Homo sapiens: one gene and its partners. The protein of the gene in region 1 purifies or fractionates together with the protein of each later gene. This does not show direct contact. Each region holds a gene or a part of one and is shown in the gene's direction. Other genes may lie near its edges. The genes, in order: WRAP73, CEP135, OBI1 and QRICH1.

The links.
Region 2: the proteins of WRAP73 (region 1) and CEP135 purify together in Homo sapiens (co-immunoprecipitation; 8 studies listed by BioGRID and IntAct, with this or other methods). This does not show direct contact.
Region 3: the proteins of WRAP73 (region 1) and OBI1 purify together in Homo sapiens (affinity purification with mass spectrometry; 5 studies listed by BioGRID and IntAct, with this or other methods). This does not show direct contact.
Region 4: the proteins of WRAP73 (region 1) and QRICH1 purify together in Homo sapiens (affinity purification with mass spectrometry; 4 studies listed by BioGRID and IntAct, with this or other methods). This does not show direct contact.

What each region holds. Positions count from the first base shown.
Region 1 is NC_000001.11:3,629,788-3,633,894, reverse strand, and holds the end of WRAP73 (WD repeat-containing protein WRAP73), read left to right. Parts: intron 1-391; coding exon 392-497; intron 498-1,556; coding exon 1,557-1,682; intron 1,683-1,738; coding exon of another isoform or gene 1,739-1,872; intron 1,873-2,237; coding exon 2,238-2,429; exon of another isoform or gene 2,430-2,777; coding exon 2,778-2,920; 3' UTR 2,921-3,125; downstream 3,126-4,107.
Region 2 is NC_000004.12:55,944,064-55,952,888, forward strand, and holds the start of CEP135 (centrosomal protein of 135 kDa), read left to right. Parts: upstream 1-4,881; 5' UTR 4,882-4,996; intron 4,997-8,022; 5' UTR 8,023-8,067; coding exon 8,068-8,180; intron 8,181-8,327; exon of another isoform or gene 8,328-8,408; intron 8,409-8,825. UniProt on the Homo sapiens protein: Centrosomal microtubule-binding protein involved in centriole biogenesis. Acts as a scaffolding protein during early centriole biogenesis.
Region 3 is NC_000013.11:78,641,812-78,650,084, reverse strand, and holds part of OBI1 (ORC ubiquitin ligase 1), read left to right. Parts: intron 1-5,087; coding exon 5,088-5,223; intron 5,224-6,532; exon of another isoform or gene 6,533-7,059; intron 7,060-7,871; coding exon 7,872-7,963; intron 7,964-8,273. UniProt on the Homo sapiens protein: E3 ubiquitin ligase essential for DNA replication origin activation during S phase.
Region 4 is NC_000003.12:49,041,693-49,049,965, reverse strand, and holds part of QRICH1 (transcriptional regulator QRICH1), read left to right. Parts: intron 1-2,719; coding exon 2,720-2,897; intron 2,898-3,386; coding exon 3,387-3,541; intron 3,542-5,461; coding exon 5,462-5,576; intron 5,577-8,273. UniProt on the Homo sapiens protein: Transcriptional regulator that acts as a mediator of the integrated stress response (ISR) through transcriptional control of protein homeostasis under conditions of ER stress.

The sequences.
Region 1 (4,107 bases):
CCCACCTCGGGTCTGTGTCTGCTGCTCCCGGGGCCTCTGCTGTGTTGGTGCAAGTGTTCTCTGTATCCTCTTATCACGGAGGGAAGGCTGAGCCCACTCCCTTGCTGGATGATGGTGGCTGCAGTGGTCTCCCGTCTGTAATCACAGGGCACACATTTGCTGCCTGTGTCTCAAAGGGTGGGCTCCTCAGCAGGACACGAGAGAGGGTGGCTGGGTGATCTCAGCTCTCGGGACTGCGGGGTTCGTGCTTCCGTCTCTCCCGGTGGCAGCAGGACCAGCTGTCATGGCAGGCACACCTGTTGACCATGCGCTGTCATGGGCATTTGCCACGTCCATCCTTGGCTTCCGGGTCCCTGTCCTGAGCCGGGCGTGGCCACCTTGTGTCTTTCAGGTGGTGTATAAGGAGGCCGAGAAGAGCCCACAGCTGGGACTGGGCTGCCTCTCCTTCCCGCCGCCCCGGGCCGGGGCCGGCCCTCTCCCGAGCTCAGAGAGTAAATGTAAGTAGCACATGTGATGTCATTTGTTTTCCTTTTTTAATGCAAGATTCCTCGTTGTCCAGATAAACTTCGGATGTTCCTTATGTTTAAAAAAAAAAACTTTTTTTCCCTTCCATGCTTCCAGCCAGTGTGCCCCTCAGCCTGTTGGCTGGAGGTTGACTAGGGTCTGAATTGCGCAGTGGGCCGTGAAGGTGCGGCTTCTGTTACTGAATATGAGCCCTGGAGACCCGGATCTGACAGCGGGAGCTCCGAGGGGATGTTTTTCCGGAGCTCCGAGAATGATGTTTTTCAAAGAAACACTTTTCCGTGGGTGGCGCTCAGAGTGGGTCTGGAACCCGGCGGTGCTCCCGAGCGCTGTCTCCGGCTTGAGGCCCGGTTCTGATGCAGCCTCTTGACTCTGGGCATTTCCTATGTGTCTGTTTCCTCATCGCTGAAATGGGCATAGTAAAAGCACCCATCCCACAGGGGCATGAGGGCATCTGAAGGTTGCAGGTAGAGGAAGCGGTGCCCCAAGTGCCGACGGGCCCACCCCGGGGCTCGGTGTGTGCTCAGGATGGGGGTCAGGACAGGTGCAGCCTGGCACACAGGAGGCGCTCCCCAGGAGCCCAGGGGCGTCCTTGTTCCACAGCCCCTGCTTCTGCTGTGATGATGGTTCTTCCACAGCCGGAAAGTCTAAGGGTACTGACGCTGAGGTGGAAGGGATTGTGAACTCAGATGCTGGTAGTCGACAGAAAAGTGCTGAGGAGTTGGAGCTGCTGAGATTGCAGCTAGGACCTGTCCATGTCCCTCTCCAGTCAGCCCCTGGCACGTGGGGTCCACCCCCCACCTAGTCGGGCCTGGCAGGTGATGGTGCCACTCTCATCCGGGGCACTTGCGGGCAGGCCCCTCGCTGCGGCTGCCAGGCTTTGCTTAGCTCTTCCTGCCCTTGGGCCGCACTTTCCTCCCCTTTGAACAGAGGAGCTGGGTTCGCGATGCCCGATGCAGGCACAGCAGCCTCTCAGCCGCGTGCGTACTTCCCGAAAGGGTGACAATGGCGTGTTCTTCCTGTTGGTGTTCTAGATGAGATCGCCTCTGTCCCAGTCTCCTTACAGACACTGAAACCTGTTACCGACAGAGCAAACCCGAAAATCGGCATAGGAATGCTGGCATTTAGTCCTGACAGCTACTTCCTGGCGACAAGGAACGGTCAGTTGTGCTGACGCAGGTGCTGTCTCACCCTTTACTGTGTCCTGTGGCCCCAGGTGTAGAAGCGACTGGAAAAGAAAATGAAGTTGGGGGTTTCCGACACGTCACCTCCTTTCACGTTTCTGCAGTAGCCGAGGTGCTCACAGAAGCTCCTTGGAGGCGCTGGGCCTTTGTCCTGCAGCAGCCGCAGGTCCGCGCATGAGTCAGGAGGCCTCCACCCTGCTCACTTGCTCCACTCTGCTGAGTAGAAAGCAGGGCTGGGCACACTGCAGCCCGCCTTTTGTTAAGGGTTTCTCCATTTGTAAAGGGCTAAAAAAAAAAAAAAAATACCAAAGAAAGAAACACATTTGGGCCCCTTACAGCCCGTGATGGCCACCCTGGCCCTGGCCAGGAGCCCTACAGGGCCCAACTGAACCCAGACTGCAGGGTGCAGCCGCCCCACCCCACCGGTTCTTCCCCTCCCCTCCTGTGGTGTCAACAGCAGAGCAGAGGGGCAGGGCCAACACAGAGGAGCCAGGCAGGGATGACACCGGTGCCCTGTCCTTCCTTCCTCAGACAACATTCCCAATGCCGTCTGGGTCTGGGACATTCAGAAGCTGAGGCTGTTCGCGGTGCTCGAGCAGCTGTCCCCAGTGCGCGCATTTCAGTGGGACCCGCAGCAGCCGCGGCTGGCCATCTGCACGGGAGGCAGCAGGCTCTACCTGTGGTCCCCAGCGGGCTGCATGTCGGTGCAGGTGCCTGGGGAAGGTAAGCACATCCCCGAGGCCACGGACGTGGCAGCCTTGCTGTGTGCAGTCTGGCATCACACGGGCTGAACTGTTGAAGCCCAGCTGCTGTCTCCGGCAGCACTCCAGGGAAACTGCCCTCAGAGTCTTTGCGTAAACCTCAAGACGGACACACAGGGGACCCGCTGCCCTCAGCTTTATGGGCTAGAAGCAGCCTCTCCCTGACTTGAGGCAGCTCTGGGGCTCCACCCTGGCTCTGCCTATGTGGGTCACTCCAGGCACTGTGCTGGCCTGCAGGACAAGGGGGTGCCCATCCCCCAGAATCTGGGCCTCCCCTGCTGTAATCCTCTGGCCACCTGTCTCTCTCTAGGCGACTTTGCAGTGCTCTCTCTGTGCTGGCATTTAAGCGGAGACTCGATGGCCCTCCTCAGCAAGGATCACTTCTGCCTCTGCTTCCTGGAGACAGAGGCAGTGGTCGGCACAGCCTGCAGACAGCTGGGCGGCCACACGTAGCAGCGGTGCACTAACGTGTGCAGAAACAGGGCTACTCTGTGTTTCCAGTGTGGGAAAAAACACAGCTTCACCAGGAGGTTCTCCACTGTGGTGGTCTGGATTCAGTGATTGATTCTATTTTTCTATAGCAAAGCATTTTTGTAAATATGTATGGTATAAAACTGTAGTTTTATTATTTAAAATAAATACTTGCTGATTTATACAACTACTTCTCTTCTTGAAACGTTTAGTCACAGGCAGGTTTTCTAGGTTCGAGGTTCTGGTCAGTCTTAGGGAAGATGGATAGCCCTACAGTAACTGAGCCCCGGGCCACTAGCTCCCGCCAGACACCCGGCCTGCTCTGGGTTCTCTGTTTGGATGTGTTAGGACAACGAGGGGGCATCTCTGTGGGGCACATCCAGCCTCCCCACAGTGGGTCTGAAGTGTGGGCAGGGAGCCCTGGCACCTGAGAGCAGCGCCACCCCCAGGTCCAGTCCCCTCGGGATGGGAGCTGCAGGTCCCCGACCAGCTGAGTCAGTTCCTCAGGAAGTCTCATGTCTACTCTGGTTTCGGAACCAGTGTGCGTGGGTCTCCACCCTGGCTATTTGCAGGAAGTGCCTAGAACCACCCAGAACCATTCCATCAATCTCTCCAGCTGGTGCTCGGCAGGCAGCCAGACTTGGTTGGCACCACAGGTGGGGGGATCAGGGTTGCAAACCTAGGTTGTTGCATATCGTGATCTCTTTCTGCAGAGAACCATACTCGGCACTGCTGTGACAGGCAGTCCGCATGGTACAGGCAGAACAGGCCCACAGGTGCAGAGCCGGCAGAGATGGGGCAGGCTTTCAAAGAGGGAAGAGACACTTTCTTGGTTGTTGCACCTACTTTAATGACAACTTCAAAAAAGGAACAACATCCATCCACTTCTTAATGTCTTTATGAACACAGAGGCTAGAGTCCCCAGCCAGCTTCTGAGGCAGCCCTGCACATCCTGCAGGTGGCCACACTCAACCCATGCCACACCGTTTGCTTAAAGCTACAAGTCCTAGAGCTGAAGAACTGGCAAGCCAGTGCGTGAAGCTTATCGACAGCGCTTCCAGCCACACGAGCAAGCTGCGCAGATACAGGGAGGTGCGTGGGTCCCTGTGGGGAAATCCTCCAGGCACATCGAAGCCCGGGCATGTTTAGTGTGAGACTTGGACAAAGTC
Region 2 (8,825 bases), on another chromosome or scaffold:
CTTTTACACTGCCAGAGTTTTGACTGACCAAGCCCCTCGGTGGGAGCAGGGGCAGTCAACTGGCCAGTGCCAACGGTCATGACTGGTGCCTTCACATTGATGGCAAGGGCCCAGTGCAGGCTTAGTATGGTCCTTTGCCCAATGCCTATCTTTTTTTGCACTTGAAGCAAGAGTCTTTGCTAGCGTTATCTTTGTAGCCCTTTGTGTTTCCCTTGGATGCTCTTTGGGCATTCAAGGCATCACTAATGATGGCTGCCATAATTCTGGCTTGCTGGGTTTTTTTTTACTCTGTTCCCCTTTTCCTTCCTCCAGTTCATGATTGTTGTACACCATAAAGATGGTGTCAAGGAACTGGTTTTGTCTATGGCCCCCTTTGCAGCTTCTGGAGCTTATGTCTAATGTCTGGGGTAGAGTGACTAATGAAATGTTGTGCCATTAATATCTTGCCTTCAGGAGAAGCAGGATCTAAGTTTGTATATATTTTAAAGGCTTCTTCTAGTCTACTGTAAAACATGGTTGGATTCTCTTCTTTCCCCTGAGTAATCTCCTTAAACTTATCATAGTTTACTCCCTTTGTTACACCTTTTTTCATTCCCCTCAGGGGTGCCTCAAGAAATTTAGTTTGATTATTCATTCTCATGGGGGTATTATATTTCCAAATGGGTTCAGTAGTAGGGACTGTATCTGCTCCCGATCTGTTGCCCTGCAGGCTACATGCAAAATGTTCATCAGTGTCCTGGCGAGCAGCCTCAAATATTCATTCCTTTTCCAGAGGTGTGCAACAGGTGGCCAAAATGAATTGCATGTCTCTCCAAGAAAGGTTGAAAGCCAAAGTCAAAGTCTGGAACCCAACAGCAAATTTCTGAGTAACTGCCCAGTTTTTCCTTACATTGTTGGATATCAGTTATTAAGAAGGAGACCTGTACCCTGATGGGACCCTCAGTTCCTGCCACCTCTCTGAGAGGTAGCAGGACAGGTGGTGTCATTGAATATGGTGTTCCTAAGCTAGTATGGGGAGGGATCGCTAGGACCCGTGACTCTTGTCCTTCTTTTGAAGCTTCAAGTGCACTTGGACCTGGATTATAGGAAGGTGGCTATTGTTCACCCTGACACATATGTACCCCTTGCAAGAGGGGGTTATCTACAGTATTCGGCTCAGTTTTAGGAGTTTCTTTCTGTGGAGAAGTGCTGGGAGCTTTGAAAATGGTAGGCTTTTGGTATAGGGCCATGAAGGCTTGCACATATGGTATTTCTGACCATTTGCCTTGTCTCTTACAAAATAGTTCTAATTGGAGGATGGTGTCATAATTGAGACTTCCATTGACTGGCCATTGCTCTTGACTCCCTAGCTGAAATTGAGGCCAAAAGGTGTTACAATAAAATATTAGGCATTTCTTTCACAGGTTTTCAGGGTCAAATTGATTCCAATGATTGAAGATGCAGCCAAGAGGGGAGTCAGATAGGACTGAAGGAATGTTTCCCAACACTAATCTGTGGAAAAGAAGAAGGGAGTTGTCAGGCCTCTGAGCCCAAGCCAAGCCATTGAATCCCCTGTGACTTGCACATATATGCCCAGATGGCCCAAAGTAACTGAAGAATCACAAAAGAAGTGAAAATACCCTGCCCCGCCTTAACTGATGACATTCCACCACAAAAGAAGTGAAAATGGCCAGTCCTTGTCTTAAGTGATGACATTACCTTGTGAAAGTCCTTTTCCTGGCTCATCCTGGCTCAAAAAGCTCCCCCACTGAGCACCTTGCGACCCCCACTCCTGCCCACCACAGAATAACCCCTTTGACTGTAATTTTCCTTTACCTACCCAAATCCTATAAAACTGCCCCACCCCTATCTCCTTTCGCTGACTCTCTTTTCAGACTCAGCCTGCCTGCACCCAGGTGAAATAAACAGCCTTATTGCTCACACAAAACCTGTTTGGTGGTCTCTTCACATGGACGCGCATGAAAGGAGTCTCATAGGTTCATGAGTTTACATCTAGAGTCTCCCTTAAGGGTGTCCCCTATTGAAGGATCTGGACTGTAATTTTGGTCCATTTGGGCATCCCCCAAATGGACCTGTCCTCTGAGTGCCAGACGTCTCTAGCCATAGTGGGCACCAGTGCCATTTGAAGAAGGATCCTGCCATAATTGGTGACCTATGATAAGTTTCCCTTTAGTTCCTGGGTGTAACCTTTGGCTTCTAGTATCCCTGTAGCTGGCCAAAAGAGTTTCTTCCCAAATGGTTTCCTTAATTATTGTAGTAACTCTAGTTTGAAGGGCAAGGAATTGCAGACTGCCTAGTTTAAATTTGTTATTAGAGACTGGCCTCTCAATAAGATAGTAGAGTGCCCTCTGACTATATGAGATAAACCAGGCACAGTAATTTCCCCATGGATCCACTGTGCAATTTATGCAATGATCCGAGAGTCTCCACCAGGAGTTTTCTTTTAGCACCAGATGTACTAAACTAAAACAATCTAGATCTGATCCCTCACAGAAGAAGCAGGGTACTCTCATTATCCAGGTGGTTGGCCCTAATCTTCAGGCTGATGCTAATCCTTGGGCTCCCCACAGTCAGTTACCTGTTGTCCTGGCCCTTTGGGTTGGGGGGAGATCTCTAATTGGTCAAAACATGATATCCCAACACAAATGAAGAAAAGAAAAAAAAAATAAAACAAGCAGCAAGGCTGGGCACGGTGGCTGGCTGGGCATGGTGGCTCATGCCTGTAATACCAGGACTTCGGGAGGCCGAGGTGGGCGGATCACCTGAGGTCAGGAGTTCGAGACCACCCTGGCCAACATGGTGAAACTCTGTCTCTACTAAAAATACAAAAATTAGCCGGGCATGGTGGTGGGTGCCTGTAATCCCAGCTACTCAGGAGGCTGAGGCAGGAGAATTGCTTGATCCCGGGAGGTGAAGGTTGCAGTGAGCCGAGATCATGCCACTGCACTCCAGCCTGGGTGACAGAGCAAGACTCCATCTCAAAACAAAAACAAAAACAAAAACAAAAACAAAAACAAAAAAACAAGCAGCAAATAATGTAATAATTATAGCCACACAAACATGCACCTCACTGTTGCAGGGATTGATCTTGTACCCCGTGGGACCCATCTGTTCCATTCCCCAATCAGGTTATCCTGTCACGTTGAGGCAGGAATTTAAAGAAAGTTTTGTACTGCATTTACTCACTCTAAGGATAGTAACAAGCAAGGCTATAGGAAGGTCATGGTGACCTAGTCTAAGAAGCCAGGAATGAGCTCCAAACACCCCTGAGCAATGGTTAAGAAAAACAAATTCCTTTACTGTTTCTCTTTCCTTAGACCATTAATTATGATTATTTTTGCCTATGTTTAGAAAGATTTGTAGGTTCCTGTTTTTCTTTTGACGCAGCTGCAAGGCCACCAGCTAAGCAAAGCCAAAAGTTATGCAAATTTCAGCAGTTATGCTATAGATTACAAAACCTGTCACTGTGTGATTTACTGCCTTGGTTCTGCTTTTTTAATTTAGCCTATATAAGCCAAGCTCTGTCTTTGTTCAGGGCTCAGCTTTTTGGATGCAAATCCACGGAGCCAGTGCACACCTTAATAAAATCCTCCTGCTCCACCCATTGGTCTTTCTGGTCCTCTGCTTTCCCGCAACAATGGGAGTCTTCAAGCGGCCAGTGCCTTTTTCGTTCTTAACTGCCCAATCCGTGCCAGCAGAAGGCAGCTTTAAACCAAAGTGAAAGAGCTGAAGCAAAAAAGAAAGAAAATAAAAAGTCCCAGTTCTTCTGGGCTTACCTCCTGGCTGGCTCACCAAAATATGTTACCAGATTGGAAGTTGGGAGTTCCAGGTTCTTGGTGTTATGAACAAAGAATTGGATGAGACACACAAATAACCACCCCACAAGATTTATTAAGCAAAGAATATACCAGAGAGAGGAACGGGCTTATCTTCAAGTGGTGTCAGCCCTGGATTAATATAGCCTTTGTTCTTTTATACCCACTTCCTACACTTCTTTAACTCTAGGGAGGGGATTTCCTATAATTGTCATATCTGTTTTCTTGTTTTTTCTCTCTTAGTGCGCCTGCGTGAGCTTGCCATAATTTTAAGTGTATGTATGATAGGCATTCCATAGGTATGAGCTGGTCAGTCTTCTGACTTCCTTCCCTATTCTGCTGCCTCAGAAGGCCTATTTGGGAGAAAAGTAAACAGGAAAGAATGAAACTCCCTCTGACTGTCTGGGAAATTTTCAGGGGAGAAATGGAATTCTAGGATTTTACTATGTGTTTTCCATCTGTGAGTGGACTATAACGGTTTATTTCAATTTAATTCCACTCACAAATGTTTTGCTGAGTAGAATAGTCTCTGACTCAAGGAATTCACATTTGGGGGCGGCAGAGAGAGACGGATCAACAAATGATTGTATTTTGATGGATGAATTCTATGGTTCTACAGAGAGCCTGCGGGAGATACTATTGTGGGATAATTAATTGCATTGGGTGGTTGTCAGGGAAAGTTGCAGAGACAACGTGATATCTGCGTTTGGGGATTACGTGGTGAGCAGGCGTTCACCTTGCAGGTGAAGGCTACTCCGCTGCAGGGACCGGTACTGGGGCGGCGTTTGTTCCCCGCACGCAGTAGGTGATCCACACCTCCCGCCGACAGGAGGAAGAGGATGCCAGCTCAGGCACCAGCTGAGGTTTGGCATTTGCTGGCCGCGGGCGCCGACCTCCAGGGGGCGCCGTGGCCTCGCGCTGTCCGGGCCGTTGCATTTCCGGGCACTGGGGCTCCGCCATCGTCGCCAAGCGCGTCCCCGCCGCGAGCCGCTAATCGTCCGCCGCTCCCGTTACCGGGGCAACCGCGGCGCCTCCTCCGTGTCGGCCCCGATCGTCCCTCCGCGCCATTTTCAAACTGCTCTAGCGCCGGAGCCCGTGCCTGGACGGAAGGAGCTAGTGGGGGACTCGAGGCCTGAGGGCAATGCGGCTGGAGGCGGAGGCAACGGCGGCTGGAGCTGCCGGTGAGTCCGGATGTGGGAGCCAGAGGGCCAGCTGCGGCGGTGGTGGCGCCTTCGCCTTCTGGGCGGTACCCGCGGGCCGGGCTCGGGCACTGCCGGGAGGCCGCGCGGCCGCGGGAGGAAGTGAGGCCAGGCCGGGTCAGACCGGGCGGGGAGGGGCGCGGGGACTCTTCCCACCCACCCCGCTCCCACACCCCCTTCCCGTCAACACCCGACGGTAAAGTTGCAAACCGGAGATTGGGTGGAGGAGAGCTTGGGCCGACTCGTCAAGGAGCGTCTGTGTGGGCCGTGCAGACAGGCTTGCTGTTGACCAATGGATAGATTTAAACATTAAAATGCCTTCTCAGTGTAGCAGTCATCCATGCTCTTTGTAACAAAAATGTCGCAAAGCGTAGGACGACAGCCTTTAATTAACCTTTGCCCAGCTCCTTTGAAGCCTCTCCACTGCTTTCCAGCCTTTACTACTTTGAGTTCAATAAGAAAGGACTCTGAGATAACCACAGCTAACGGGTTTCTTTGTTGTCGTTTGGGGTTTCTTGTTTATCTTCTTAAGCCCTGTGCACACATACATACAGCATTAAATGTACTGGTTTTGAGACGCCAACCCCCAGAGTTAAGTAGATGGATACTTCTACACATATATGTATGGGGGACCCCCAAACCTAACCTTTTATGTTGCTTTGCTAGAAACTTAGAGTATAGCCACCATATTTGGATGGGGGTTATGGGGAAAGACAACAGTTCATGGGTGGGGACGGCCTAACATGTTTCTATCTGGGAGGATTTTAATCCGTCCTGTGTATTGAGGCCCTGGCCATGATTTATTGATTCATATTCATTCTCATTCTCTCCCCTCCAAAGCAGGATGTGAGGAGGTATTATCTCTGGGTAACTGGAGTTGGTAGCAAAGAGGGGAAATGTTTTGAGTGGTGCACCGCCTGTAAGTTTACACCCTGCTAGTAATACACCTGGATTTGTCAGGTGTATTTCTGATGTCTGCAGGAATTTCCCTAAAAACCCTGCATCACTTAGGTGTCTCTTGTGGAAAGAACCTAGGAAATCTATGAGGAAGCCATTCAAAAAAAGTTAACAAGAGCAAAGAGAAAGATATACAGAAAGGAGTGACCAAGGAGAGACTCAGGAGACCTGGTCTCTGATGACTGCCCACCTACTTTGTGGCCCCGTGGTTTTGGAAGAGTTACTTTCTTGAGGCAGCCTTTCCTCATGTTTAAGTAGGGATAATATCATTGGTCTTTCTCCCTCACAGGGTAGCTGTGAGGATCGACTTTTACATGTATGCTCATGCATGTAATGCATTTTTTATATATTGTGAAGAACAACAGATGTAAAACAAAATTTTTATTTGGCTTAGAAATACGAGTACCATGACTACAGTTAGTTAGCAAAGGTTAGAAAAGAGCAGAGTTTCTAAAGAAATGATCTTTGGGCTGAGCATATTGGCTCACACCTGTAAACCTAGCACTTTGGGAGGTAGAGGTGGGAGAATACCTTGAGCTCAGGAGTTGGAGACCAGCCTGGGCCACATAGCAAGACCCTGTCTCTAAAAAAGGTAACAATTAAAATAAAAAAAAAAAAGAAATGCTCTTTGGATAACTCCATTTTAGGGCAGATTGATAGGAATATATTCATAAATATTTAAAAAGACAAAGATAAAAACTTGAACAGAGGTACTTATGTGTGTCTTTTTTTTTAATTGAAGTGAAATTTACATGATGAAATGCATAGAGTTTAAGTGTACTATTTGAAAAGTAAATTCTCTAAATGTATACACTTGTGTAACCACTACCCCAATCAATGTAATATTTTCATTACCCTAAAAAGTTGTGTCTTAACTCTTAACGGGCAATCTGCAGCCCGCCTCACCTCCCCAGACAACTCTTGTTTTAATTTCTGGCCCCATAGTTTTAATTTTACTTGTTCATCAACTTCATGTAAATGGAGTCATACAGTATTTGTCTGGTTTCTTTTGCTCAAATAATGTTTTTGAGATTCATCCATGCTGTTGATGTGTATCAGTAGTTCCTTTTATCCCTTAGTATTGCACTGTATAAATATATCATACTTTACCCCTTCTGCTGTTGATGGGGGTTTAGGTTGTTTCCAGTTTGGGGCTACTATGAGTAAAGCTGTGAACATTCTTGTAGAGTATTTTTGTGAATATTTTTTATTTCTATAAATACCTGGGAATAAAATCACAGGGTTATAGTCCAGAAGTATGTTTAACTTTATAAAAAAACTGCCAGACTTTTTCCAAAGTGATTTTACATTCCTGTCAGCAATGTGTGAAGATTCCAGTTGCTCCAGATCTTTGTCGACATTTGCTATTGTCGGTCCTTGTAATTTTAGTCATTCTAGTTTGGGAGAAAATGTACCTTGTTGTTTTAATTTGTATTTCCATGTTGACTACTGTTGAGCACCATTTCATATCATCATTCCCATTCAGACACCTATGCGAGGTGTCTGTTCGAATCTTTAGCGCAACTAAATTACAGTTTTAGCCCAAATTAATGTTCTTATTGGGATGTTTGTCTTATTATTGAGTTGTAAGAATTCCTTTTATATTCCCTATACAAATCCTTTGTCAGATATTGTGAATATTTTCTCCCACTCTTTGGTTTGCCTTCTCTATTTTAATTGAGTATTTTGATGAGCAGACATTTTAAATTTTGATGAAGTCCAATTTATCAAATTTATCTTTTATGTTTAGTGCTTTTAAAAGAGGCCTCTCTGAGAAGTCTCTGCCTACTTCAGGCTTAGGAAAAATCTTTGTTTTCTCCTAGAAGCTTTAGGATTTTAACTTTTACATTTAGTTGTATGAGGAAGTATTTATTTTAATGCAGTAACAGGAATATCATAAGCATTGGCTTTAAATCTGAATTTTCCAGAAGGCTACCTACCTGAAGAAAAACAAAAAATAATTGCTTCATATTAAAATAATTTTTTCTTCTTATTGTGAAACAACAATCATAGCTATAATAAGATAATGATGTTTCATTCTTTTCTCTCAGGACTTTAATTTTTGGAAGTGAATAAAACTTGTTTTAGAAGACGAGATGACTACAGCTGTAGAGAGAAAGTATATTAATATTAGGAAAAGGCTGGATCAGCTGGGATACCGCCAGACTCTGACAGTGGAGTGTTTACCTTTGGTAGAAAAACTTTTCAGGTAAAGACAAAAATACAGTTTTCAACCTTTATGATCCCTAACCACTTACCTCATTTCTGATTGAACTTCATGCTTTGGTAAAGAAAAGGGTAGCTTTCCGGAAAGGCTTTCAATCATGAAGCTTATCTGTTTTTTCCCTGTCCTCAATCCAGGCCTTCCACACGGCAGAACTCTAAAGGCCACCACTCACGCTGTACTGTTCAAAGTCAACATTTCTGGGGGTTTTCTCTGTGAATGGAATTACAGTTTTTTGGGTTTCTGATATAATTGAGAGACACTTTTCCCTTAAGTTCTTTTTTTTTCCCCCCCTTAAGTTCTATGTCTGCTTCACTGGTCTTCAAATACAGTCATGGATAGTTTCATGACAGGGATACGTTCTGAGAAACATGTCATCATTAGGTGATTTTTTCGTTGTACCAACATCATAGGGTGTGCTTACACAAACCTAGATGGTGTCGCCTACCACAAACCTAGGCTATATGGTCTGTATCCTATGGCTCCTAGGCTACAAACCTGTATAGCATGTTACTATACTGAATACTGTAGGTAATTGTTAACACAGTGGTGCCTATTTGTATATCTGAACATATCTAAACATAGAAAAGGTATTGTGTTGTGCTACAGTGTTACAATGGCCAGATCTCA
Region 3 (8,273 bases), on another chromosome or scaffold:
CTTTGCATTAGAAACCACAGACCTGGAAAAGGAACTCAACAATGTATAGCAATCTGCTACCTATCCCTAGTAAATTAGCTTTCTCACTTTTCAAAATTACTGCTTTATTCTCCTGTCTTCTCAAATCTGTAACCCACTTCCCTTCTCGTTTTCAGCTGATAACTTCACCTCATATTTGATGACAAAAGATAAGCAGCTGAGATAGTGGGAACATGAATTTCCTCATTTTTCCATCCACAGATCTTCCAACCCCTTTGTGTTTGTTCACACACCCCCTATTTTCCCTTCTGTTGCAAAAGAAGACAAACCCTCACTCCTGTATGTGCCAAAATCTCCTTTTGTGCTTTGGATCCCTTTCCCCTCTTGACTTCTTAGGGACTTTGTTGCCTATCGCTGTAATACCCCCATCACTCTTCATCCATCACTAATATCCTCTCTTTATCATTCCCATTGGTATTCCTAACCGTCGTCTCATTTTTATGCTCTCTCCTTTACAGCAAAACATGAAAGAATTGTCTGTATTTTCTGTCTTCACTTCTTCATCTTTCATTGTCTCTCAACCTCCAGTCAGGTTTCCATCCCCAACATTCGCTGAAACAGTGCTTGTCGGTAACTGATCAGAGTGACTTCCAAGCAGTTAAATCCCATAGTCACATCTCAGTGCACATCAAACTCAATCTCACATCAATATTTTACTTATCTGGCCGCTGCCTCTCTCTTGAAAAACTTTCTTGCCTTGACTTCTGTGATATCATATTCTCCTTTCCTACATCACAGGACCCCTCCTTGTCAGTTTCCTCTGCTGGTTGCTCTTCCTCTTCCTTTGCTTGCTGGAGTGCCTTCTTTTCTCCAGCTGTTTTGTCCATTCATGAGATCTCCTCCAGTCCTATGGCCTTATATGCTCATGTCTTTTATGGCAGTGACTCAAAACCTGCCTTGTTGAACTTGTCCACTTAAAAATGGGCTTAGCATCACAAATTTAGCATGGCTAAAACAGAATTCTTGATTTTTACCTTGTGCGAAATCTGCTTTTCTTGTCTTTGCCACTTCAGTATATGATAACACCAACTACTGAGTTGCTCAAAACCATTTCATAGATTGGGGAGATAATATTTAACCTTTGTTGTGGGAGCAAATACATGAAAAATACTGATTCTTTTTTTTTTTTTTTGAGATGGCATTTTGCTCTTGTTGCCCAGGCTGGAGTGCAATGGTGCGATCTCAGCTCGCCGCAACCTCTGCCTCCCGGGTTCAAGTGATTCTCCTGCCTCAGCCTCCCAAGTAGCTGGGATTACAGGCACACGCCACTAAGACCTGCTAATTTTGTATTTTTAGTAGAGATGGGGTTTCTCCATGTTGGCCAGGCTGGTCTCAAACTCCTGACCTCAGGTGATCAGCCCGCCTCGGCCTCCCAAAGTGCTGGAATTACAGGAGTGAGCCACCGTGCCCGACCTACTGATTGCTTTTAAATGTGTTTTTTTTATGGAAAGATTGGCAGAGCATCTTGAATCCTCTCATATAATGTGCACGCTTTGCTTTTAAATGTGTTTTTTTTTATGGAAAGATTGGCAGAGCATCTTGAATCCTCTCATATAATGTGCACACTTTTATGTCTTGAGCATTGGCTTTTATCCATTTTCAGATGAGTTTATAACTTATAAAAAATAACTTACTATAAAAGTAGATAACAGTAGATAACTTCCTTTTTTACCTGAGCTTCCTAATTTTGGGGCATATAGTACTTCTAGGAATATTGCAGGGGTGTGTGTGTCTGTGTGTGTGTGTGTGTGTGTGTGTGTGTGTGTTTGGGGGAAGTTACAGGATAGATAAGGCAGTATCTTCTTGGTTTGGGATTTTTGTGCTCTTAAAAGATTTCATGACATAAAGATGAAATTAAAACATATATGAATATATTATGGTCTGGACTTGCAAATCACATGAATTTTTAAGAAAAAAAATAGAACCTGCAAAGAAAGTTCAGGTTTGTCTGCCATTTGAGACTCTGACCAGGAATACTTTATAGATAAGCGTTCACTCCTGGCTGCTGGTAGGACCACTTTGGAAGAAGACTTTGAAACACTATGGTTCATTATTTTTTTTTTTAATGAATCTGTCAAACCAGTTGAAATGAATGCTTAGAATTAAGTTTCTCCAAGAAGTTTAAATCTATTCCAGATTATCTTTGTTTAGTTTTCTTGGGTTAGTGTTCATAATCAAGGGAGAACCAGAATGTTCAGAAAGCCAGACTGAGACCAGAGCTCTTTGTAACGAGACTCAAATGATTACCTGCCCATCATTGAAGGGGGCCAGCCCCTCCACACCTGTGGGTATTTCTCATCAGGTAGGACGAGAGACTGAGAAAAGAAATAAGACACAGAGACAAAGTATAAAGAACAGTGGGCCCAGGAGACTGGTGCTCAGCATATGGAGGACCTGCACCGGCACTGGTCTCTGAGTTCCCTCAGTATTTATTGATTACTGTTTTACTATCTCAGCAAGAGGAATGTAGTAGGAGAGCAGGGTGATAGTGGGGAGAAGGTCAGCAAGAAAACATGTGAGCAAAGGAATCTGTGTCACAAATAAGTTCAAGGGAAGGTACTGTGCCCGGATGTGCACGTAGGCCAGATTTATGCTTCTCTCCACCCAAACATCTCATTGGGGTAAAGAGTAACAGAGCAGCATTGCTGCCAACATGTCTCGCCTCCCGCCACAGGGCGGTTTTTCTCCTATTTCAGAACTGAACAAATGTACAGTAGGGTTTTATACCAAGACATTCCATTCCCGGGGCAGGCAGGAGACAGGCCTTCCTCTTATCTCAACTGCAAGGGGCCTTCCCCTTTTACTAATCCTCCTCAGCACAGACCGTTCACGGGTGTCAGGCTGGGGGACGGTCAGATCTTTTCCATCTCATGAGGCCATATCTCAGGCTATCACATAGGGAGAAACCTTGGACAATACCCGGCTTTCCTGTGCAGAGGTCCCTGCGGCTTTCCGCCGTGCATTGTGCCCCTGGTTACTCCAGAATGGAGAATAGTGATGACTTTTATCAAGCATACTGCCTGTAAACATTTTATTAACAAGGCACATCCTGCACAGCCCTAGATCCCTTAAATCTTGATTCCATGCAACACATGTTTCTGTGAGCACAGGATTGGGGCAAAGTTACAGATTAACAGCTCAGGGCAAAGCAATTGTTCAGGGTACAGGTCAAAATGGAGTTTCTTATGTCTTCCTTTTCTACATAGACACAGTAACAGTCTGATCTCTCTTTCTTTTCCCTACAGTCATGAATAGCTATGCATCTATTAATTCTTTGAGAGGTGGGGGCCCCTTTTAAATTAATGAATACTCAGTAGATTCTTTTAAGGCAGACATAGAGTAGCACAAGCATTTTCTCCGAGAAAAGTGGTTTGTGGTGGTTCTGCCTCTTCATTCTCCCTCTACTTACTCTGCTTTCCCTTGACCTAGTCTTCCAGTTCCTAGTGCAGAAGGGTTCTATACTGTAATTACTATTAGGGAAATATTGAAAATGGCTATGAAATGTTTTGAGTCCCACCGTGAAGAGACCATGTAAATCAAGTGATAAGACTACATTTTTCTGTGCTGTTTTTGTTTGTATTTTTAAATTTGTGCTATTTCAAAAAATATTAAATCATTATTTCCTTCTGACAACTTTCCCAACTAGTTGAATGTTAACACTATCTTAATAGCAGTTAATCATTCAACAGACCTTTGTTGAGTACCTGCTAAGTACCAAGCTATCTTCTAGGCACTAAAGGTTTAGTTATGAATGAGAGTAAAGAAGTTCTTGCTCTCATGGAGTTTCCATTCTGATAAGGGAGATAGACAATAAATATGTAAACACGAGTATAATATCAGGTAATATAAATGCTGTGGAGAAAACCAAAGCAGCTTCTCTTTTCTTTCTTCCTCCTGATAAAACAACTACAAACAGTCAACACACCCAGTTAACCCTGAGCAAGCTACCTAATTTCTTCATGCCTTTGTTTTCTTATTTGTAAAGCATATTTACCCAGTTTACCTCACCAAGTTGTGGTATTTTTAAAAAAAGAGATGGAAAAGGGTTGGGGCGGTGAAAGATGCATGTGAAAGCCGTTTGTAAAATATGACTACAGGCCAGGCGCGGTGGCTCACGCCTGTAATCCCAGCACTTTGGGAGGCCGAGGTGGGCAGATCACCTGAGGTCAAGAGTTTGAGACCAGCCTGACCAATGTGGTGAAACCCCGTCTCTCCTAAAAATAGAAAAATGAGCTGGCGTGGTGGCAGGCGCCTGTAGTCCCAGCTACTCGGGAGGCTGAGACAGGAGAATTGCTTGAACCCAGGAGGCAGAGGTTGCAGTGAGCCTAGATGGTGCCACTGTACTCCAGCCTGGGTAACAGAGCGAGACTCCGTCTCAAAAAAAAATGCTATAAATGTAAGGTATTATTATTTGTGCTTGTTTAAATGGAGCCTGGAGTCAAAGATTTGTGTATTTGGTGTATCTCAGTAATTCTGTCTGCATTGTTTGCTGTTTAGATTATAAACTACTTGAGAGTGAAGCTCATGCCTTTTGGGTTGTTTTAGCTTTCATTACTGTTTGGTTTTGGGGAATTTCTAGTAAAGTATCAATACAATATTTAATAGTTGCTGTTATTCTGTAACAGTGGAATGAATTGAGAAAAGGATTCGGGCATCAGATGGATGATTGTGCTAAATGATATTTTCAAAAACCTAATCCTGCTGTTCTATAATGCTAAAATAGAAGAGTTTGAGCAAAATTGTCCCAGCCTTAGTGGAACAAAAAGCATTTTCTTTTTGGCATGAATTCTGTGGTTTAGGTACAAAATAAAGCATTTTATATGTCAAAAGCTTCAGTCTCCATGATCCAGTATCTCATCTAGTATCTCTGTTAAACATGTGTAAAAAGAAAAGTGACCAACAGAAGCAGTGTTTTTAAAAGCGCTAGATATCCCTTCTTAAACTCCTACTCTGCTATAATCTAGAGAAGCAGTTTGCTGTAAACTAAACCATTTGATCTTCTAATTATGACCGTTGTCCTGTACTAAAAGTGATTTCTTTTTTCAAAGGTACGTCAGCCTGTCATATGCATCAACAACCATGTATTTTGTTCGATTTGTATTGATTTGTGGTTGAAGAATAATAGCCAGTGTCCAGCTTGCAGAGTCCCCATCACTCCTGAAAATCCTTGCAAAGAAATTATAGGTAAGGGCCTGTTTTATATATGCATAGGAATAGGTTTGAAACAATCTCCAAATAATTTATATTTCGAGGAAGACTGAAATAGGCTATTTTCAGTGATGCTATTTGGCCAACATAATACTGAGTGGTTGAGTAATTTGTGTAATGTATATGTGGAGCAACTGGGGCACAAGGCACTGAGAGGTGCTAAGAGGAATAACCCTGAGAGCCTCACGGAACTTACATTTTCATAGCAACTGAACCAAAAGAAAAGCAGCAAGTGCTAAGGGCCCCAAAAAAGCCCAGAGAGTTCAGGCAAGAAACTTCAGCTAAGAACACCGAGAAGGGCTTCATAAAGTAGGTGGCCTTTAAGCTGGACATTTAAATTTAAGGATGGATAACATTTCAACGGTGAAAATTAAGGAGGGCATTTCCTGCAGGGAGAATAGCATGAACTAAAAAGTTTAGATACAGGAAAACCCAGAGCATGTTTTTAGAAATGATCAGTAGTCTACTTTGGGTCCGACTACTGAGATAAGACAAAAGGTAAATTGAGACTTTAGTGCAGAGAACCTTGAATGACAGCTAAATCAGGGACTTGCTCTAGGACTAAGAAGAAGGGTGAATTGGGCATGATGGTTTTGAGCAAGGGAGTGGTATGATCCAAAATGTGCTTTACAAATATTACTTGTGGTAATACATAGGTTGGACTATAGGAGTAGACAGGATGTGAGTAGGTCTGGTAGGAGGCTTTTGCCTAGGTGATAGAAAATGTAAGTTTGGATTAAGGGTGAAAACAAATTCTATGTCACATTAATATTGGTGGGGTGGGGGAGGAGTAAAGCTTGAACTAGAGGATCCTTGAAAAGGAGAACTTCTAAAGAGCCTTTTTAGAGTTTGGTTTTTATTCTACTCATATAAGTTATTTATTTTAGGTTGCAAAAATTAAAATGATTTCTACTTGTTTTTGCTATAGGAAAAATTGAAAGTGAATCTACAATTAGCCAAGTATAGAAAACATTTTTCAGAAAACTTAAGAAGTCATTGTAATAGTCCCAAGTTAGGGAAAATGGACTTAAATAAGATTTTTTTTTTTTGAGACAGAGTTTCGCTCTTGTTACCCAGGCTGGAGTGCAGTGGCGCGTTCTCGGCTCACCGCAACCTCTGCCTCCTGGGTTCAAGCGATTCTCCTCCCTCAGCCTCCTAAGTAGCTGGGATTATATGCATGCATCACCACGCCCGGCTAATTTTGTATTTTTATTAGAGACGGGGTTTCTCCATGTTGGTCAGGCTGGTCTCGAACTCCCGACCTCAGGTGATCTGCCCGCCTTGGCCTCCCAAAGTGCTGGGAATTACAGGCGTGAGCCACCGTGCCCAGCCAAGATTTTTACAAAGGAAATAGAAAGGAATATATATGCTACAGAGCAAAAGAAGAACTAGTAGGACTTAGGAAATAAGAGATCTGAAGGCGCAATCAGAGTTGGCTCTTGGTACCTGGGTGAAGTCTGGTAGAGGACTGGTTCTCTGCTGTGTTGCATGCTACGGGGTTAACCTCTATCTGTTTTTTTTTACCTGCTGAATTTCACCAAGGAGTCAAGTCTTTTCTTGCAGAATATGAGCTTTGATGATTTGAATATTTTCCCCCAGCTTTTCTTCTCATCCCATATCCTACCTTTATTCATTCATACCTAAGTGATATTTCATAAATTCTCTCAAGGAAAATAGTTCATCCATTTTTGCATTTGGATAGAACATCCTGAAAAAGAACACCTGTAAAATACCTTTGCTATTATTATAATGCTAAAAAATACAAAGAAGGTAACCAGAGCATCAGTGAAGAGCTCTCAGGAAGAATTCATTGTGAGTGCATTTGTAACAAGTCATGACATAGAGTTAATGCCATGACTTACAGTCCATTGTAACTAGCCTGTTAGAATCCGTGAAAAGACACATTAATCTATATACATAGGTATATAGCAGTAATACTTTTTTTTTTTTTGAGACGGAGTCTCGCTTTGTCGCCCAGGCTGGAGTGCAGTGGCGCAATCTCGGCTCACTGCAAGCTCCGCCTCCCGGGTTCATGCCATTCTCCTGCCTTAGCCTCCTGAGTAGCTGGGACTACAGGCGCCAGCCACCACGCCCGGCTAATTTTGTTTGTTTGCATTTTTAGTAGAGACAGGGTTTCACTGTAGCCAGGATGGTCTCTATCTCCTGGCCTCGTGATCCGCCCGCCTCGGCCTCCCAAAGTGCTGGGATTACAGGCGTGAGCCACTGCACCCAGCCAGTAATACATTTTTATATAATCTCTTGGTTAAATGTAAATGTAATAATTGGTTTTATTATTTAAATATAGTCTAGTTTTCAGAATTTGAAGTAGTCCAAATGTGATAATTACAGCCCTTTCCTCCACTGAGTTTGCTGTGATAAGATATGTAGATATGTAAATACAATATGATGTGTTACTGAAGGTATTTCTTATGGTGTTATTTGATATATTTTTTTTTCCTCAAGATTAGGGTAGAGAAAAGGCCTAGATGTAAGCCCCAAGTGTGTATGTAAGGGGAAGGGTAGATGTGAAGCTGGGAAGCTATATAAAACAATATGAAAAAGGATCATTTTCATTCTTCCCGAATCAGAATGAAAAATTAGGATTTTTTTTTTTTTCCCTACAGGAGGAACAAGTGAAAGTGAACCTATGCTAAGCCATACGGTCAGGAAGCATCTTCGGAAAACTAGACTTGAATTACTACACAAAGAATATGAGGTAAACAGTAATCAAAGTTTAAAATTATGTTAGCAGTGAATTCAAGGTAAAAACTGACCTACCTCAGTCCCCAGACTTCTTAGAGTAAATATCCAATGAAATTTTATTTTAAAAGCCTATAAAAAGAAATTGTTTGATAAATTCTTTTTTCTTTTTTCCTTTCGTATTTTAAATAGAGGAAAGAGATTTTTTGTTTTATTTTTTTTCTTTAAGTACCAAGGAATGGGGGAATGGGATTCCAGAAAAAAGGAACAGATGGAAGCATTTCTTTCTTTTTTTTTTTTTTTTAAGTTAAAATTTGTACCTCCAC
Region 4 (8,273 bases), on another chromosome or scaffold:
GGCCTCCAGAGTGCTGGGATTATGTGTGAGCCACCGCGCCCAGCTCAAGCACATTCTTTGAACATGTGGTGACTCAGTTCTTGCCTTTCAAAATCAGAGTCCAAACTAAAAAAATGGAAAATCTTGGAATTTTAATATTTTTAGGGTATAAAGATCTCTTCAGAATCTGGCCGGGTATGGTGGCTCACGCCTGTAATCCCAGCACTTTGGGAGGCCAAGGCAGACGGATCACCTGAGGTCGGGAGTTTGAGACCAGCCTGGCCAACATGGTGAAACCCCGTCTCTACTAAAAATACAAAAATTAGCCGGGCATGATGGCAGACACCTGTAATCCCAGCTACTCGGGAGGCTGAGGCAGGAGAATGCCTTGAACCTGGGAGGCGGAGGTTGTGGTGAGCCAAGATCATGCCACTGCTCTCCAGCCTGGGTGGTAGAGCAAGACTTTGCTCAAAAAAAGAATTTTAAAAAGTTGGAAATATTTTAACATTATTCAAACATTCACTTTTTTATTTTTATTTTTTGAGCCAGAATCTTTCTGTGTCACCCAGGCTGGAGTGCAGTGGCACTGTCTCAGCTCACTGTAACCTCCGTCTCCTGGGTTCAAGTGATTCTTATGCTGCAGCCTCCCAAGTAGCTGAGATTACAGGCATGAGCCACTATGCCTGGCTAATTTTTCTATTTTTAGTAGAGATGGGGTTTCACCACTTTTTTTTTCTTTAAATGATGGCTCAACTGTGGCTGGACATTAAAATCACCTGGGAAGGCCAGGCACAGTGGCTCATGCCTGTAATCCCAGCACTTTGGGAGGCCAAGGCGGGCAGATCAGTCGAGGTCAGGAGTTCGATACCAGCCAGCAAGATGGTTCAATAACAGCCGTCTCTACGAAAACTACAAAAATTAGTTGGGCATGGTGGTGCATATCTGTAATCCTAGCTACTCGGGAGGCTGAGAAAGGAGAATCGTTTGAACCTGGGAGGTGAAGGTTGCAGTGAGCCGAGATCGTGCCACTGCACTCCAGCCTAGGCGAAAGAGCAAGACTCCATCTCAGAGGGAAAAAAAAAAAATCACATGGGAAGCTTTTAAAAATACTGACAATGTGCCTCTACCTTACAATGGCTGGAGATAAGGCCCAAGTGTGAGGTTTCTTTCTTTTTTTTTTTTTTTGGTTTTTTTTTTTGTGAACAGAGTCTCACTCTGTTACCCAGGCTGGAGTACAGTGGTGCGATCTCGGCTCACTGCAAGCTCCGCCTCCTGGATTCATGCCATTCTCCTGCCTCAGCCTCCTGAGTAGCTGGGACTACAGGCGCCCGCCACCACACCCGGCTGATTTTTTTGTATTTTAGTAGAGATGGGGTTTCACCGTGTTAGCCAGGATGGTCTCAGTCTCTTGACCTCGTGATCCACCCACCTCGGCCTCCCAAAGTGCTGGGACTACAGGTGTGAGCCACTGCACCCGGCCAGGGTGGGTTTTTTTTTTTTTTTTTTTTTAAAGCAATCCAGATGATTTCAAGGTGAGACCCAGTTTAAGAATCAGTGCTCTCGGCCGATGGCCCAAGCCTGTAGTCCCAGCACTTTGGGAGGCTGAGGAGGGCGGATCACCTGAAGATGGGAGTCAAGACCAGCCTGACCAACATGGAGAAACCCCATCTCTACTAAAAATACAAAATTAGCCGGGCGTGGTGGCACATGCCTGTAATCCTAGCTACTTGGGAGGCTGAGGCAGGAGAATAGCTTGAACCCGGGAGACAGAGGTTGAGGTGAGCCGAGATCCTGCCATTGCACTCCAGCATCCAAGAACAAGAGCGAAACTCTTTCCCCGCCAAAAAAAAAAAAAAGAAAGAAAGAAATGTTGTCTCAGTTCCTACCCTTTTCAATCAGAATATGCATTTTGATAAAATCCCCAAGTGATTTGTTTGCACATTAAAGACTGTGGGAGCAGTGCTTTGAGCCAGTAGTTCTCAGTGGTGACCAAACATTAGAATTACTTTTTTACTTGAGGAGTTTTTTTGTTTTGTTTTGTTTTTTCTTTTTTCTTTTTTCGAGACAGAGTCTCGCTCTATCACCAGGCTGGAGTGCAGTGGTGCAATCTTACTCAAGGAGTTTTTAAACAATTGATACCTTGGCTCCCCCTCAGAGAGATTCTGGGGTAAGTCTGGCTATTAGTGTTTTTAAATAAAAGATTTGACCGGGCACAGTGGTTCACGCCTGTAATCCCAGCACTTTGGGAGACTGAGGCGGGCAGATTACCTGAGGTTGGGAGTTCAAGACCAGCCTGACCAACATGGCGAAACTCCGTCTCGACTAAAATTATAAAATTAGCTGGCCGTGTTGGTGCATGCCTGTAAACCCAGGTACTCGGGAGGCTGAGACAGGAGACTCACTTGAACCCGGGAGGCGGAGGGTGCAGTGAGCTGAGATTGCGCCATTGCACTCCAGCCTGAGCAACAAGAGGAAAACTCCGTCTCAAAAAAAAAAAAAAAAAAAAACATTTAAAAGTGCAGCCAAGGCTGAGAAGCACTGCACTAGCCCAGTTGCAGTGCTGCTTTTGCTGTCCCTGGGGCAAGAGGTAGAACTCCAAAGCTTCTTAAAAGTAGGACAGCAATGAGTAGAGAAATATTTTCTTAAATAAATGAACTATACATAACATTTTTCTGGCAATTTTGCAGAAGGATCTAATATAAAACAATATTGACACATTTTCATGGTTTCTCTCCTATAGGCTCAAACTGTCCAGGTTGCTGAAGTTGAACCACAGTCACAGCCACAGCCTTCCCCAGAACTTCTGCTTCCAAATTCTTTGAAGCCAGAAGAAGGGCTTGAAGTATGGAAAAACTGGGCCCAGACCAAGAATGCTGAACTAGAGAAGGATGCTCAGAACAGATTGGCACCCATTGGGAGTGAGTGTCTTGGAAGAAGAGTGGGCTGTGTCTAAAATGCAATGGTACTAAAGTAACAGGAGGACAAAATGCCAGAAAAGTGGTGTCTCCTGTCTTGGGGACAAGAGAGCAACATCTGTAATAGTATGTTGAATTCAAGCCTAGTAACAAGCAGTACTGACCTTGTGTACATAATAAGCAGGATATGTGGGGTTTGCCCAAAACCAGGCATTTTTAGACATACGGGTTTCAGGAGTTGACCCTACCAGACCTAAGCAGAGTGGCTTCTGGGAGGAAATGGGAACCAGGGATAGGCACTCAAGCCCTTCTTTCTTGGCATTAGGCTCATATACTCATGTTATAGGCCAGTTCTGACATTACAGGCATGAAACATTCTAGTAGATACAAGTGAGCATTTCTATCCCAGCACCCTGATGGGCAGTATCTGTTCTGAGCCTTCCAGATATGGACCCCCAGGACCTTCATTCATTTTTGAGGCTTCCGTTGCAGGGCGCCAACTGCTGCGATTCCAGGAAGATCTCATCTCCTCTGCTGTGGCAGAGTTGAATTATGGGCTCTGTCTAATGACACGGGAAGCTCGAAATGGAGAAGGTGAACCCTATGACCCAGATGTGCTCTACTATATTTTCCTGTGTATTCAAAAGGTAGGAAACAGATCTTCACAAGAACATGTTTGAGCTGTGTTCCTATTGGATGTTTGCTAGTTTAGTTAATAAATTGATAAGCAAGAAGTTAAAATAAGGAAGTTCTCTTTCAGGTATACAGTGAGTTTTAAAATACACATTTGTTGTTTTTTTTTTTTTTTTAAGTTTTAAAAACCTACACGTTCACTTTAGAAAATAACAGCCGGGGCCGGGCGCTGGTGGCTCACGCCTGTAATCCCAGCGCTTTGGGAGGCCGAGGCAGGTGGATCACTTGAGGTCAGGAGTTGAAGACGACCAGCCCAGCCAACATGGTGAAACCCCATCCACTAAAAATAGAAAAATTTGCCAGGTGTGGTGGTGCACTGCCTATAATCCCTGCTATTTGGGAGGCTGAGGCATGAGAATCGCTTGAACCCGGGAGGTAGAGGTTGCAATGAGCTGAGATCACAGCATTTTACTCCAGTCTGGGTGACAGAGCGAGACTCTGTCTCAAAAATTAAAAAAAAAAGAAAAGAAAAGAAAAAAAATAAGAGCCAGGCAAGATGTCTCACACCTGTAATCCCAGCACTTTGGGAGGCTCAAGGCAGGAGGATCGCTTGAGCCCCAGGAGTTTGAGACCAGCCTAGGCAACATAGTGAAACCCCATCTCTACAAAAAATTAGCTGGGTATGGTAATGCATGCCTGTAGTCCCAGCTACTTGGGAGGCTGAGGTGGGAGGATTGCTTGAGCCCCAGAGGTTGGGGCTGTAGTGAGTCATGATTATGTCACTACACTCCAGCCTGGGTGACAGAGTGAGACCCTGTCTGAAAAACGAAAAGAAAAAAAATTAGCTGGGTGTGGTGGCACACACCTGTAGTCCCAGCTATTTGGGAGGCTGAGGCAGGAGGATCCCTTGAGCTCAGGAGTGCGAGGCTGCATTCAGCTATGATTGTGCCATCACACTTCAATCTGGTCTACAAAGCAAGACCTTGCCTCTTAAAAAATAAATACATAAAATAAATAATAAAATAGGAAAACAAACATTATTCATCCTACTACCTAAACTTCTATTACATTATTGGTAATTACCTTGACTTTTTTTTTTTTTTTTTTTTTTTGTAATTCACAAAGCATTTATGTAACACTTTTCTTTTTGTTAAACCTGATTTTCATGAAGGTAATTTATTCAAAACAGAGTCTTGTGCCAGCATAGAGGTTTTCTTCTCATTGTTCCCTGCACTAACTACTTATTTGAAGGAGTCTAGCTAGAATAATATACCAATGTAGTTAGGTTTTCAGGACATCTGTGGTGAAGCATAACAGAAATTTGCAGACTGGCAGTTCAAGGGAGCAGAGGTGGATTTCTTAGTGTTTGAAGGCTCTTGAGGAGAAACCCACAGTATAATAGAATAGGGCTTACTGGTTGGGACTTATTCTGTTGCCTAGTCTTGAGAAATGTCTGCCTCCTAGTTTTTTCCTCTCTTGGTGGTCCTAACCTAAGTACTATGTGAATTGCTTTACATGCTTTCATTCTTTGCTCTCCCAGTCCTGGAAGGCAGATACCATCATCTCCATTTACAGGCAAGGAAACTGAGTCTCAGAAATTAAAAGACTTGCACATGTTGTTTAACTTATACAATATCTAATGGAAGGCTGACCCCAGAGCCTATTCATGATTTTTGCTAACACAAAATAATGCCTTTCTTGGGTGAAATAGCATTCACAACATCTGCCTTATTTACCCAACTCTCAAGAATGTCATGAGAATCAGTCACATGAGCTTAGGCATACTATGGAAGTGTCACATGCTGGTGCCTTGGTTTGTTGAGGTGTGAATGGGTAGGGAAGGATAGTAGTACTGGTAGAAAAATATATTTATTTCCCCTGAAATCCTTGTTCAGGAGACTACCAATAACTTCTATTAATTGTTTTTCTTTTAGTATCTTTTTGAAAATGGAAGGGTAGATGACATTTTCTCCGATCTTTATTATGTTCGGTTCACGGAGTGGCTACATGAAGTTCTGAAGGATGTTCAGCCCCGGGTCACTCCACTTGGTAAGAGTCTCCCTTGTCCTTGGATATCTTTCCTACCTGGATTTAAGAAAGATCAATAGCTTCTGTGGTTGGCTATGAAAAGCATGTGAGTGAGGGGGGATATAAATCCCAGACTGCAGCAGCATTGGCCACTGTGCTACTTGCCCTGATAGGGAAGAGGCACTGCTCACCAGAGAAGCCTGCTGGTTCCAGTGTGGGAAGGACACAGGAACAAGCAGAACTAGTGGGGTAGTTACTATCTTTTTTTTCCTATTAAAATGTATTGATTAAAATTAGAATCATAACAATTAAGGATTATGGACAGTTTTATCTGTAGAGCATAATTTTTGCTTTACTCACAGGCAGCCTTCTGGACAGCATGTTCTATTGGAACAAAAGCATAGGTTATTCAGTGTTTTTCTTTGTTTGTTCTTAAAAAAACATGGTCTTGGTATGTTGCTGAGATGGGCCTCAAACTCCTGAACTCAAGCGATCCTCCTACCTCAGCCTCCTGAGTAGCTGGAGCTATAGGCATGCGCTACTGTGCTCAGCTATTTTTGTTTTGTTTTGTTTTGTTTGAAACGGAGTCTCACTCTATAGCCCAGGGTGGAGTGCAGTGGCACGATCTTGGCTCACTGCAGCCTCCGCCTCCCAGGTCCCAATTCAGGCAATTCTCCTACCTCAGCCTCCTGAGCAGCTGGGATTACAGGCATGTGCCATCATGCCCTGCTAATTTTTGTATTTTTAGTAGAGACAGGCTTTTGCCACATTGGCCAGGCTGGTCTCAAACTCCTGACTTTGTGATCTGCCCACCTCGGCCTCCCAAAGTGCTGGGATTACAGGCGTGAGCCACCACCGTGCCTGGCCTATTTTTGTTTTTAATAGACTTTTTTTTTTTTTTTTTTTTTTTTTTTGAGACAGAGTTTTGCTCTTGTTGCCCAGGCTGGAGTGCAATGGTGTGATCTTGGCTCACTGCAGCATCCACCTCCCAGATTCAAGTGATTCTCCTATCCCAGCCTCCCAAGTAGCTGGGATTACAGGAGCATGCCACCACGCCTGGCTAATTTTTGTATTTTTACTAGAGACAGGGTTTCATCATATTGGTCATGGTGGTCTCGAACTCCTGACCTCAGGTGATCCGCCCACCTCGGCCTCCCAAATGCTGGGATTACAGGCATGAGCCACCACGGCCAGCCAATAGACTTTATGTTTTAGAGTACTTTTAGGTTTCCAGAAAAATTTAGCAGTAAGTACAGAGAATTTCCATATAACTCCTTAAGTATATACCCTCACACACAGTTTCTCCTATCAATAACATGTTGCGTTAGTATGGTACATTTGTTATAATTGATAAACCAATATTGATACATTATTGTTAACTATAGTTCATAGTGCTATGAACTATATTATTGTGTTGTACGTTCTGGTTTACATTCTGTATCTGTTGTACATTCTGAGTTTTGATGAATGTATGATGACATGTGTCACCATCATGGTGTCATATAGAATGTTTACTGCCCTAAAAAATACCTCTTCTGGGCCAGGCATGGTGGCTCACACCTGTAATCCCAGCACTTTGGGAGGCAGAGATGGGCTGATCACTGAATATTGGGAGTTCAAGACCAGCCTGGCTAACATGGTGAAACCCCATCTCTACTAAAAATACAAAAATTAGCCAGGTGTGTTGGCAGGTACCTGTAATCCCAGCTACACGGGAGGCTGAGGTAGGAGAATCGCTTGAACCAGGGAGTCGGAGGTTGTGGTGAGCCAAGATTGCGCCACTGCATTCCAGCCTGGTGACAGAGCGCGACTCCGTCTCAAAAAAAAAAACAAACCTTTTCACCTGTTTATCCCTCCCTCCCCCAGATACCCTGAAAACCACTGATGTTTTTACTATCTTCACAGTTTTGCCTTTTCCAGAATGTCATATAGTTGGAATAATTCGGCATGTGGCCTTTTCAGATTTGTTCCTTTCATTTAGCAATATGCCTTTAAGATTCCTGTGTGTCTTTGGCTGGGTGCAGTGGTTCATGCCTATAATTCCAGCACTTTGGGAGGCCGAGGCATGTGGATCACAAGGTCGGGAGATCGAGACCATCCTGGCTAACACGGTGAAACCCCGTCTCTACTAAAAAATACAAAAAAATTAGCCGGTTGTGGTGGTGGGTGCCTGCAGTCCCAGCTACTCGGGAGGCTGAGGCAGGAGAATGGCATGAACCTGGGAGGCAGAGCTTGCAGTGAGCTGAGATCGTGCCACTGCACTCCAGCCTGGGCGACAAGAGCAAGAGTCTGCCCCGTGCCACCCCCGCCCCCCCGCCCAAAAAAAAAAAAAAACACAGTCTGGGCGCGGTGGCTCACGCCTGTAATCCCAGCACTTTGGGAGACCAAGGCAGGTGGATCACTTGAGACCAGGAGTCCGACACCAGCCTGGCCAACACATAAAACGTTGTCTCTACTAAAAATACAAAAAATTGGCTGGGAGCTGTGGTTCACACCTGTAATCCCAGATAATCCCAGAGCTTTGGGAGGCTGAGGCAGGTAGATCATGATATCAGGAGATCGAGACCATCCTGGCTAACACTGTGAAACCCCGTCTCTACTAAATACAAAAAATTAGCTGGACGTGGTGGCATGTGCCTGTAGTCCCAGCTACTCGGGAAGCTGAGGCAGGAGAATTGCTTGAACCAGGGAGGCAGAGGTTGCAGTGAGCTGAGACCA